Regions from separate parts of the Homo sapiens genome. Here region 2 is linked to region 1. The links come from fine-mapping of genetic effects on gene expression. A gene starts in region 1. The other region holds a variant in brackets. All regions are shown on one strand. Distances are between the middles of the regions.

What was found. PIP is the estimated chance that this variant, and not a neighbour inherited with it, causes the effect.
Region 2: its variant is the best candidate, but not a certain one, in a credible set for the expression of DIDO1 in hypothalamus (GTEx, PIP 0.78).

Annotation. Positions count from the first base shown.
Region 1 is chr20:62,924,010-62,929,371 of GRCh38, reverse strand. DIDO1 (death inducer-obliterator 1) reads left to right here and starts at 2,867. Exons shown (of 16, transcript NM_001193369.2): 1 at 2,867-2,933. RefSeq lists silencers at 1-36, 2,680-3,119, 3,190-3,279 and enhancers at 167-256, 1,033-1,881, 2,764-3,377, 3,720-3,769, 3,378-3,991.
Region 2 is chr20:62,873,931-62,879,292 of GRCh38, reverse strand. DIDO1 (death inducer-obliterator 1) reads left to right here. Exons shown (of 16, transcript NM_001193369.2): 16 at 1-1,550. The coding sequence ends at 60. It overlaps LOC105372717 (a long non-coding RNA gene), which reads right to left. Exons shown (of 4, transcript XR_936989.4): 2 at 4,372-4,520; 3 at 4,116-4,251; 4 at 327-2,506. Among named protein-coding and RNA genes, the nearest start is that of SNORA117, 6.3 kb to the left of the region's middle. RefSeq lists enhancers at 2,651-3,304, 3,305-3,959. The variant G/A (reference allele first, on the strand shown) is at 2,694.

The DNA.
Region 1 (5,362 bases):
GGCCCAGGCGCGCCCCGCCCTCGCCCCTCCCCGTGCCCCTCCCCCGCTGCTCCCCTCCCAAAGGCCGAGACCTGGACGCTGCCCGGTGGCCTCGGCGGGGGCCCTGTCCTTGGCCGCTGCCTCTCTGAATCCCAGGTGAGAAGAATAAAACGTCCTGACGCTGTCCGGCTTCCGGTTCTTGGAGAGGACGGGCCGTCTCTGCCGAGAGAACTGTGCGGAATCAGGAAGCGCTGGTGCTCCTTCGCTTTCACGGGACTAAGCGAAATCCGGCTTTAAACGAAGTAAAGCCGGCTGCCTCCTGGAGTATTTTTGTCATAGTATTTTTATTTTGGGTCAGGGTATTCTGCTGCGGACCCTGAGTCTTAGGAAGGAGGCTTATAACAGCGGAAAGCCATTTTTTTTTAAGAATTGCTGAGTTTTCCGGATTGTACTTTCAAAGACTTTCCCTGAAACTTTGCGTGGCATGGGGGTTGCAGAAACTGGTGTCTACACATTACAAAAGTGTACTGTTTACACCTATTTGTGATGCACCCATCGTGTTTTTCTCCATGGACCACCTATTAAGCTTCCTGCTGGAGCGCTCTTGGCCCCCTTCCTGCTTTCTGGGCCACATCCTGTTGTAAATCGGTGCTACTTGTGGGGTTTTGTTTGTGAATTGGGGATATTTAAGGAACAATTTATTGAAACAACTGAAGAGTTTGTTTCCTCCTTTGGGTTTTACTTTTAAAATAAATTCGGTTAGGAAAAAGTATTCTTTTGCTAGTGGAGTTCAAATTCAAATACCCAGACTGTAGATTCTCCAAATGCCTTTCTCACCAGGGAGGGCAGCTCCCAGGAATAGTGACGGCAGGTAAGCTGGGATAAAGCTGACTTCGTCACCTTGTAGGTGGGGAAGGCCAGAGTGGATAGTCTGGCCAGGCCTCCACAGCCGAGCCAGCTTCTGCTGGGGGGCGGGGGAGATGAGAACGAGAGGCAGGTTCCAGTATCCTCTGGACTTGCAGGAAGGAAGGCATTCTGCGTATCGCTGAGCACTGCGGTGAGCTGAGTGAGGGTTCCCTTTCCTCATGTTTTCCTGCCTTTTTCTTCCTCTTGGTTCTCTTGTCCCTGAGCCGCCTTGTCCACTCTTTCTATTCCCTTAGTGCCTTTCCATCTATCTCTCCTGAGTGCCCAGCGTGAAACTGTACCCAAGAGTTAAAATCTCTTAAAAATCTCACCGTCTTGCAGAAACAAATTGTGGCTGGTTTAAAGATCCTCAGCTAAAGAGACTGGGCTGAGGTTCCCCCATACCAGTTGGATTTAGAGAGAGCCTCTTGTAGGGAGGCCTCATGTGGTCTTCACCTGGGCCTCAGCATGTGAGCCCTCCTTTAACAGAGAGCTTGCCCAAGATCTCACTGCTTGTTAAAGGTGGTCTCAACCCCGTCTGTCTTCTAAGCTTCCCACTACCCCATGTCTGAGAGCAAAAAGCCCTCTTTGCAACCTGAGATCACACTCAAGATGGAAGACTGTCAAGCCCATCCCTGCCAGATTCTATTAATGTGGTCCTAATGGGCCACACCAGCAAAAACAAGCTGCGTTGTATTCCTTTGAAGAAAACTAAGTCTGCCTCAGAAACTAGCAGACCCTGTAATCTTCAGCGGTATTATTAAAAAGCACACCTGCCTCAAAGCCCCTGGTTCATCCATGGAAGCATCGCAGAAGCCTCTGTATTAGGGGCAGCTTTACGGCACTCTGGGCCCCTTTTACTCTTGGCCAGGGCCAACGCCAAAGGCTAGATGGTCCATGCTTCCAGGTAGCGTATCACTGTTCACAGAAGCAGAAACAAGTAATGGGGCCACCTCCACCCCCCCCAGGTCCCTGCCCTCGGAGCAAGTGGCCAGTGCCCATGGTGCCTCGAGGCAACAGCTGCCCCTCCTGCCCCCTCCCAGTCTCTTTCCTGCAGTATCTGGGGACAGACAGGTGATAGAGTGTCACTCTAGTTACTATTGAGCGAACTGAAGAAAATCCACATGGAAGGTTGACATCTACCATACCTCACTTTCCCCTCTCTTGATAGTAAGTGTCTAATCTTTCCCTCCAACCCCTGTGGGCAAACATGTCCATGCGTTCTTTGAGTTCTAGCTACTGGTCAGTAGTTCTGAGTGTAGGATTGACATGGTGGGAGGAGGCAGAGCTTTGGGACCACACCGCCAAGGTCCCTGGGGCCTAGAGGTCCAGCGTGCCCGCCTCCCTTCCTCGCTGTGCTCCTTTCTCTCCCCCCCACCCCCACGCTCCTGGTTTCTGGAGCCGAGCTTGGGGTGGGGAGGCAGCAGGTAGGGTCTTCAAGTTGGAGAGAAACCCCGCCCACACCTGGACCTCGCCCCTCGCTGCCATTCCCAGCCGAGGCCGTCAGGGGCCTGCGTTTTGAGAAACACAATCTGGAAGAGAAAACCTGGGCCTTTTCTTCTTTTATCCCCTGTCCCCGCCCCCCTACACCTCTTACAAATTTAGCCCAGGAGCTTTCTATCCCCACCGACTTGAAGGGTTTATCGGTCTTAAGAGCGAAATCCTGGCGGAGTGCAGTCCCTCGGGGCTAGCATCCACGTTCCGCCTGCGCCCTGCCCGGGCTGTTCCGAGGGATCCCCGCAAGGGCACTGCCCCAGCTTTCACTCTTGGAGTCGGGGAAATAAGGTGTCCACAAAGGATGCAAGCAAGTCATTGTCAGTGCAGACCCGAAGGGCGCGTCCGGAGTGCAGGTATGAAAGACGGGCGCATGCGCGCAGTCCGGGGCCGGGCTTCGCAGCCCGGGCTCCGCTCTAGCCCCGCAGCGTCTCGGTGGCCGGTCTCGTCCTCCGCCCGCCGCGCGGGGGCGCCGCTCTAGCCCCGCGCCATCTCGGTGGCCGTCCGCCCACTCCGCGGCGTTCGGGGAAATGGCTGCGAGACCCTAGAGGCCTGCGGCCTGCGGTAAGTGGCGTCCCGGGCGCCGGGTAGAAGAGCCGGCCGCCGCTTGGGCCGCCCTCGGGAGCGGGGCGGGGCCGGCATCGGAGCCCGGCTGGCGAGAGCCGCGGATCCCGCACAGGCCGCTCCCGCCGAGAAGATGGCGGCCGCGGAAGGGAAGGAGCGGGCGGGCGGGCGGGCGAGCGGGCGGGGCCGGTCAGAGCCGCCGCGGCCTGGGGCGCGGGCCTCAGACGCCGGCCCTGGTGGGCTGCGTGAGGTCGAGGGGACTGGCGAGCACTCGGTGGTCGCGGCTGGAACGGTTCCGAGGGTGGGAGTCGGGGCGGCCGCTCGCGGGGAAGAGCGCAGGGCTGGCCTGGGCGAGTGCGGCCCGGGGCTCGGGGGCTGCGTAGCTGGCTTGTAAGCGCAGCTGGTTTCCCTAGGCATTCTCGGGGACCTCGGCGCTTCCTCCCGGGCCTTGGGTGCGGTCGGGGTGGCCGGCTTAGCTTCTGGCGTGCCTTCGGGGGATTCCGGCACTGCAGGGGCGGCTGGCGCTGCAGGAAGCGCGAAGAGCCCGGATTCGCTTTTCTGAAGAGTGTGTCCTTACCTCCCCGCGCTGGTTTTCAGTTTTTTTGTGGAATAGTTTGTTGCGTTGGTTTGTACTGGCCGTATTTGTGACACATTTTGCCTTCCAGTGACCCCGGAAGCCGAAAGGGCCCGCTCTTGCGCTCGGCGGGAGGGGTGCTCGTGCTGCCTCCGCTGCGGCGTCCGGGGCTCCTTCTCGCGGTTCTGAGACAGTGGAGGTCAAGGCCGGCTTTTCTGCTCTAAATAAAGGACTTTAATATATAAGTTTAGAGTTTGGGCCACAGGTAGCAGTAGCTTACTGCGTTACCAGTTATTGAAAATACTCTTTAACTTGTGCCTGGGCCTTCGATATCCGTGTCATCTGTCTGCTGATGGAATGAGATTTGAGCCTAGTGTACTCAGGGACTTAGAGGAGGGAAAGGCAGATGGGAACGTCTTTTCGGTATATTCACATAACTTTGCTATATACCCCGTGTTCCATGGTTTCCGTAGGGCCACATATGACTTGGTTGAAATACAGTTCTGAGAAAGGTCCTTAGCAGTGCCTTTTAAGGAGTAAATACAGTCTTTTTTTAAATGAGCATTCATTGCTTACTGTTAGCACGAGGGATACAGCAGTGACCAAGGTGGCCCCTGTCCCAGTCCTGGAGACAAGTTCACTGGGGAACTTGAGAGATTATTCCAGCTCCTTCCTTTAAATCAGGTGTTGCCAACTCGTTTACCTGGAGCCTAGGGCTCTTTAGTGGCCCTTTGGGTTGCTGTTAGTGTATGTGTGTCTGTGACTATTTCACTATTTTAAATACGGCATAGACATCTCAGAAGTGTCACCCAGGAAGACAGACACAGCCCTGTTGTGAAACTCCCTGCTTAATGCACACTTGTTTTCCTACTTGCTGTGTACATGGGGAGGAGATGTCTGTTCTTGTAGACTTGTTTCAGCAAGTTTCATAAGATACCTCTTGTTTTGGAAAAGCGCGTATCTTGAATTTTTTCAGGCTTTCCACCAGAGGCTGTCCCTTATTAGTAGTTGATTGAATTCAGACTATGTCAAGCAGAGCTCATTGTGCTGTGGTGAGAAGACAGGGCACAAATAAGATAATTTGTGATTGACTGCCCAGCCGTACCCATGGTTACCAGACAGCCCAGCCCATGTTGCATGTGCATATGTGAGCCTCGCAAAGGCTTGTCTAGGACGTGCGGATCATCGGTTGGGCCTTGGAGGGTGCTGGGGTTTCTTCATGTAAGGAGGAAATGATTGGAATGGGCATTGGCTCCCGTTTTGTTCGCGGTGAAGTTGGCAGGTTCTGCTGTTGATACTGTGAGTTTTTCTACAGCCTTAGGGTCATAATTCCCTTAAGGTCAGTTCTGTGGAGCCCAGTAGGGTGCTTCTCTTCAGTGTTTATTTTTAAGCTGTGCCACGTCTTCATTGTTTGGAATCTCTGTAAACAAGACACGTTTTTCCTTTTTATATGCCTGTCCCATAATACCAAGTGGCTTATTTGGCTCTTGAAGAGCTAAGATTGAAAGTGTTTAACAGGTGACTCCCTACTATCTGTGGGTCCCTGCACTGTGCCCTTGCCTGAGAGGTCTCATCTCTCTGGCAGGCTCAGAAGACCACTAGAAAATTCTCTCTAAACAGAGTCTCTCACTTACATTTCTTATTTAAATGACGGGGTCCCTTACAGTGGATACTAAGATCAGCCTTTTTATGACTACTATCAAATGATGTGTGTTAATTGCATTACAAAAGTTCTATAATTAACAGTTAATGGAAATGTACTAATTGGGAAAGAGGAGGTCAAAGAACAAAGTCCAGTTTGCTCATTTCATGTACGTGTACACAGTCATCTGTGAGACAGTCTGTGTT
Region 2 (5,362 bases), 50 kb after region 1:
CGGGACCCGAAGCCCGAGGCCTCGAGGGCCTCCGACGCTGGCACCGCCTCGCAGGCCTAGACGCCCCGGCCGGGCAGAGACCCTTTTTAAAGCCACGTTCGTAAGATGCGTTGAACAAATAGCTTTTGAAATAGCCACGATCTTAGATTCAGGATAGAATATTCTGGACTTAAACATTACTGTAATTTTGTGTAAATGGTTTCTTACAAGATTTCACATCTTTACAATTCTGATGCTTTTTTAAAAAAACTAAACTTTAATATTTCCATTTAAAATTAAAAGAAATGGGAAATTGCCTACGGAGCATATTGCTTTTCAGATCATAGTTATCTTTTCCAATAACTTTATTGTAAATTTTAAGGGAGTTTCGTTGGACCCTAGAGCCATACCTTCACTGACATCTCATCCGTTTGTGTTTCCAAAAGCTGCTTTTACAGGTCTTAGCCGCCGCCCCGGAGGCCGGTGTGGGCGTGACCTGCAGGCGTCCACCCTGCGGCTACGGGAGAAGTCTTAGTAGCTTGTATCTGGAGTCTTGAGAAACACAAACCTTACAAATGCATCTTTCTTTTGTCATAAAATTGGAATTACAATTTTCAACTGGGAAACAGAAACACATTTCTTAGCGTGCTCAGATTTTATATATCACCTTATCAATTTTTTCCAAAACATGATTTAAAGCAACATCTGTCCTAGTATAATTGTTGCATTTTAAATAACAATTTATTGAAAAATGTTAAGTTTTACCAGCCTAAAAAAAGTAACAAACCAATTAAGTGTACTTTGGGGGCAGGGAGGAGTCCTTGATTTGAATAATCAGGAGTTTTGTTGGTCCAGTTTCGCCTTCTGAGCAGTTCTTCTGTATCCCGGGAAAAGTACGCTCGGCCCCAAACTGGTATTTGTCAGACGATACATGTAAAAGTTTGTCCTTGAACGTGGAACAAGACTTGTGTAAAGTCTGAGACGGGAACTAGTGATCACTAGCTCAAGAACTGCAAATGAGACAGGAAGCTGTTCACTGTGAAACAGTCTCTTGCTTGTCGTGTATTTTTCGAGTACTTCTGAAGTGTGAAGTAAAAAAATCTGGCTAATTTATTTGTACAAATACACTTTGATAATTTTTTATATTTTCATAAACTTTTACAGATGTAAAATTAAAGAACTTCACTTGTTCTTTGGAGTCTGTTATTCCATTGTACGTCACTACAGATTTTTCACTTTATAGCACAGATTTTTTAAGTTAAGAAAACATTGAGAATGTATCAGTTTGAGATGTTTGGTGTTGAAAGCCAAGTGTCCATAGGTTAAATTACATTAAAGTAGGTGTCACGTTCCAACATCTAGTACGATGAGAAGGTTTTGTTTGTTTAACATATAAAGCAAATTTTTCTAATTTAAATACACAAATGTAAAAATCAAGTGTGTTTCTTTAGTTTACTTGATAGAGATTCCTGTACATTGTATTTTATATTGCGGAGGCTTATATCACTGTACATGAGAACATGGAACGACCTAGGTTTTGTTACTCGCAGTAGAATAAACAGCTACAGGAAGTTTCTGTCTCGGGTCTTCATCAGCCTTTTTCTAACGCGGAGAAGTTTGGGGTCGTGCACGGACGCCCTGGCCACCCAGTTTCTTGTTGCTGGTTTGCCTGGGCGTGGGCAGGAGTGCCCTTTGGACCCCTCCCTGAACTCATGCTGAGCCCAGGGTGAGACCGGCCGGGTGCGGGTCCCCACATCCTTCCGTCACGGGGCAGCTGTCTCGCTCCCTGTGGGGACCCAGCACCATCCAGCTCTGGAGACGATGGGCAGGAAGGTCGGGAGGAGGGACTCACCCCCTTCAGACCCTCTCCTGGGGCTGAGTGGGAGCCCGAGACCACTGCAACAGCCTCAACTGCGGTGAAGGAGTCTCATGGTTGGGGAGTGAGCCCCGAGGCCCCAGCCCATCCAGGCTGCAGCAGAGTGTGCACCCGCCGACTGCGGGGCGTGCTGCTGCTGAGGATGCAGGTGGGCAGGTGGGCTTGGCGGCCCAGACCCAGCAGTGCCAGTGGAGGAGACGCGGTGGCCCACGTGCCTGCACACAGCGCGGCTGCAGGGACAGGCTCGGGGAGCTGGCGCCTGGCCTGCGAGCTTCCTCTGGTCGCCTGTGGGCCAGAGCTTGGCTTCCGAACAAGCGTATGGGTCCACAGCCCAGCCATGAGCAGACGCCGGTGGGACGTTCCCGCGCAGACCGGTGCAGGCCCCTTGGCCAAGTGTCTGGTGGGGCAGCAACAGCTCTGAGCAGCCTCCTCCAACAGCTCCAGACCGTGACCTGTGCAGCCAAAGGGCTCACTGTGGAAACATGGCGAGGAAGACCTAGCTCCAGTATGCCCCTGGGGTCGGCCGCGTCCCGGTCAGCCACACCAAGCAGGAAAAGGCCCAGGCCCCGGAGCCCTGGCACCCACAGGCCCACAAGGCACCACAGGGTCACTGAGCTGTAGCTCCCTGTTCTAGCACAGAGGCCGAGGCAGCTGTCGGGGGAAAATGGAAAGAGCCATCTCACTCGAGAACTCGGCACGGGGGCCTCCAACGGGGGGTAACACCCAAAGCAGCCAGCACCCTCCCCACACCAGGCATCAGCGAGTCCCAGGGAGGAGGCGGCAGTGGGGATCGTGGCTGTGGCTGAGCTCAGGGGGCCTAACCAGAAGGGGAGAAAAG[G/A]AAAGACCACATGAGACATGCCCAGACGGACAGTGACCTCAGCCCTCAGTGGCAGGGCAGCGCCAGTGAACAGGCTGAGCCAGGGCGAGACTGGCTGGGTGCAGGTCCCCACATGCTGGGTCCGTCTTCCTGTGGGACACCTAGCAAAAGGGAGAAGAACCAAGCCTGCCCAAAACGTCACACCCAGCAGTCACTGCTGTCGTTAATTTGGTATTTTCCTTAATCTTTTTCTCTCTGCATCTAAATTTTGACAAAATCGGGGTCCCTCCAGGAGCACGCTGTGGCCTGGGGTTTGCTCCTCCTCCTCCGGCTGCTCTGCTGCTCCCAGCCGACCTCACTCCAGGGCTCAGGGGACCATGTGGGGACCCTGCCATTGGCTGAGTATGTCTGTTCCACAGGAGGCCGGGAGGCTCACTGGGCCTCCTCAGAGGAAAACCTGAACCAACTCCGTCGTCCGCCTCCATAAACCACAGCTCTGCCTGGCATCTGGGCCTCCTGAAATGAATGTCCTTTCAGCTCCAGGGTCTAGTAATTCCTAAAAGGCCTGATTATTTCCCATTCCCGTTGCACAGACTCCTGATAAACAGAGGAAGATTCCTTTGGGAAGGGGCGGTGGGAAGATTAGCTGCATGTTTTTGGCATTTAGCAGGGCCCCTTCCTCTCGGAGACTCAGTCTGTCCTTCATTCCAGGGGCCTGGGTCTGTCCAGAGTCTGGAACTTGGCCGAGGGCCCCGGACTCTGTGTTGGGGCTTCCAGTCAGAGCGCAGGACTCCTGCTCTCGGACCTACAGCCTTTCTGCCAGCACAGAACGGGGACGCCTTTGGCAGGATGTCCTTTTTTTTCAGTTCTAGGGAAGCTGCGCCCATCAGGCAACGCAGGAACTATGTGGGTCAGATGACTGCGCCTCTGCTGCCGCTCACGGCTGTGCTGGGAATCACGTCCGGCAGGATAGCTCCCGCCAGCCCAGAGCGCCACCATCCCCACTGCATTGGGAGCCCAGCTGCATGGCAGCAGTTCCCGCCGCAGTTTTTCGCCTACAGAAAAGAATGATCATGGAGCTCTTCCCCGATGTGGGTGTGGGTGCGGTGTGGGTGAGGGTGCCAGTGAGGGTGCGGTGCGAGTGAGGGTGCGGGTGAGGGTGGGGGTGGGGGTGAGGGTGGGGGTGAGGGTGGGGGTGAGGGTGGGGGTGCGGGTGAGGGTGGGGGTGCGGGTGCGAGTGGGGGTGCGGGTGAGGGTGGGGGTGGGGGTGAGGGTGGGGGTGAGGGTGGGGGTGAGGGTGGGGGTGCGGGTGAGGGTGGGGGTGCGGGTGCGGGTGGGGGGGAGGGTGGGGGTGGGGGTGCGGGTGGGGGTGGGGGTGGGGGTGGGGGTGGGGGTGAGGGTGCAGGTGAGGGTGCGGGGCTCCCCGATGAATTCACTCCTCACAATCCTCGTGAAGGGGTGACCTCCAAGCCCTAAGGACATCAAGCTGGTCTTGCACGATAAATCCATCCCAGCGTTCTGCCGTCCTCTCCAGTGTGCCAGGAAAGTTCTGGATTTCACTGAATTTAGGGTCAGCTACCTGTGGGGCGAAAGTTTCGGTGACTGATGAAGAAAATGGGGGTGGGGGGTGGGTCACTCCCAGCCGTTCCCTCCAACGCATCAAATCCAGAATCTCGTATCTGAGTCCCTGTCCACTTACGCAAGCTTATATTCCTCCCACCCAGATCCCGCACTCTCAACATCGATTTCCACACATTTTCCGCAGGTTTTCGTAGGGAAACATATTTGTAGGCCACACCTCACACTTTCTCTTTTGGGGCCTGCTGGAACTCCAGTCTGGATCTAGGTCTAGAAGGAACACAGAGGTGGTGGTGAGTCCCGGGCAGGACGGCGGCACCTTACAGGGCAGCTCCCTAGGGAAGGCACTTGAGGGTCTTTGGGCAAAGGGGTCTCAGCTCCCCAGGCAGTGGCAGAAGAGCCACATGTGCCTTCAAAGACGACCTGCGGAGTTCACCGGCAGATCCCAATGGACTTGCAGGGCTCGTGGTCCTCAGCTTCACTGGGATCTTCCCACATGCCCCTGTAGGGACCAGCCCCACAGGGTCGGTGGGCTTCTCCCTGTGTGTGGTGACGAGAGAGTGTAAAAATAAAGACACAAGACAAAGAGATAAAAGAAAAGACAGCTGGGCCCGGGGAACCACTACCACCAATGCGCAGAGACCGGTAGTGGCTCCGAATGTCTGGCTGCATTGTTATTTATTGGATACAAAGCAAAAGGGGCAGGGTAAGGAGTGTGAGTCATCTCCAGTGATAGGTAAGGTCACGTGGGTCACGTGTCCACTGGACAGGGGGCCCTCCCCTGCCTGGCAGCCAAGGCAGAGACAGAGAGGGAGAGACAGAGACCGCTTACGCCATTATTTCTGCTTATCAGAGACTTTCAGTACTTTCACTAATTTGCTGCTGCTATCTAGAAGGCAGAGCCAGGTGCACAGGATGGAACATGAAGGCGGACTAGGAGCGTGACCACTGAAGCACAGCATCACAGGGAGACGGTTAGGCCTCCGGATAACTGCGGGCGGGCCTGACTGATGTCAGGCCCTCCGCAAGAGGTGGAGGAGTAGAGTCTTCTCTAAACTCCCCCGGGGAAAGGGAGACTCCCTTTCCCCGTCTGCTAAGTAGCGGGTGTTTTT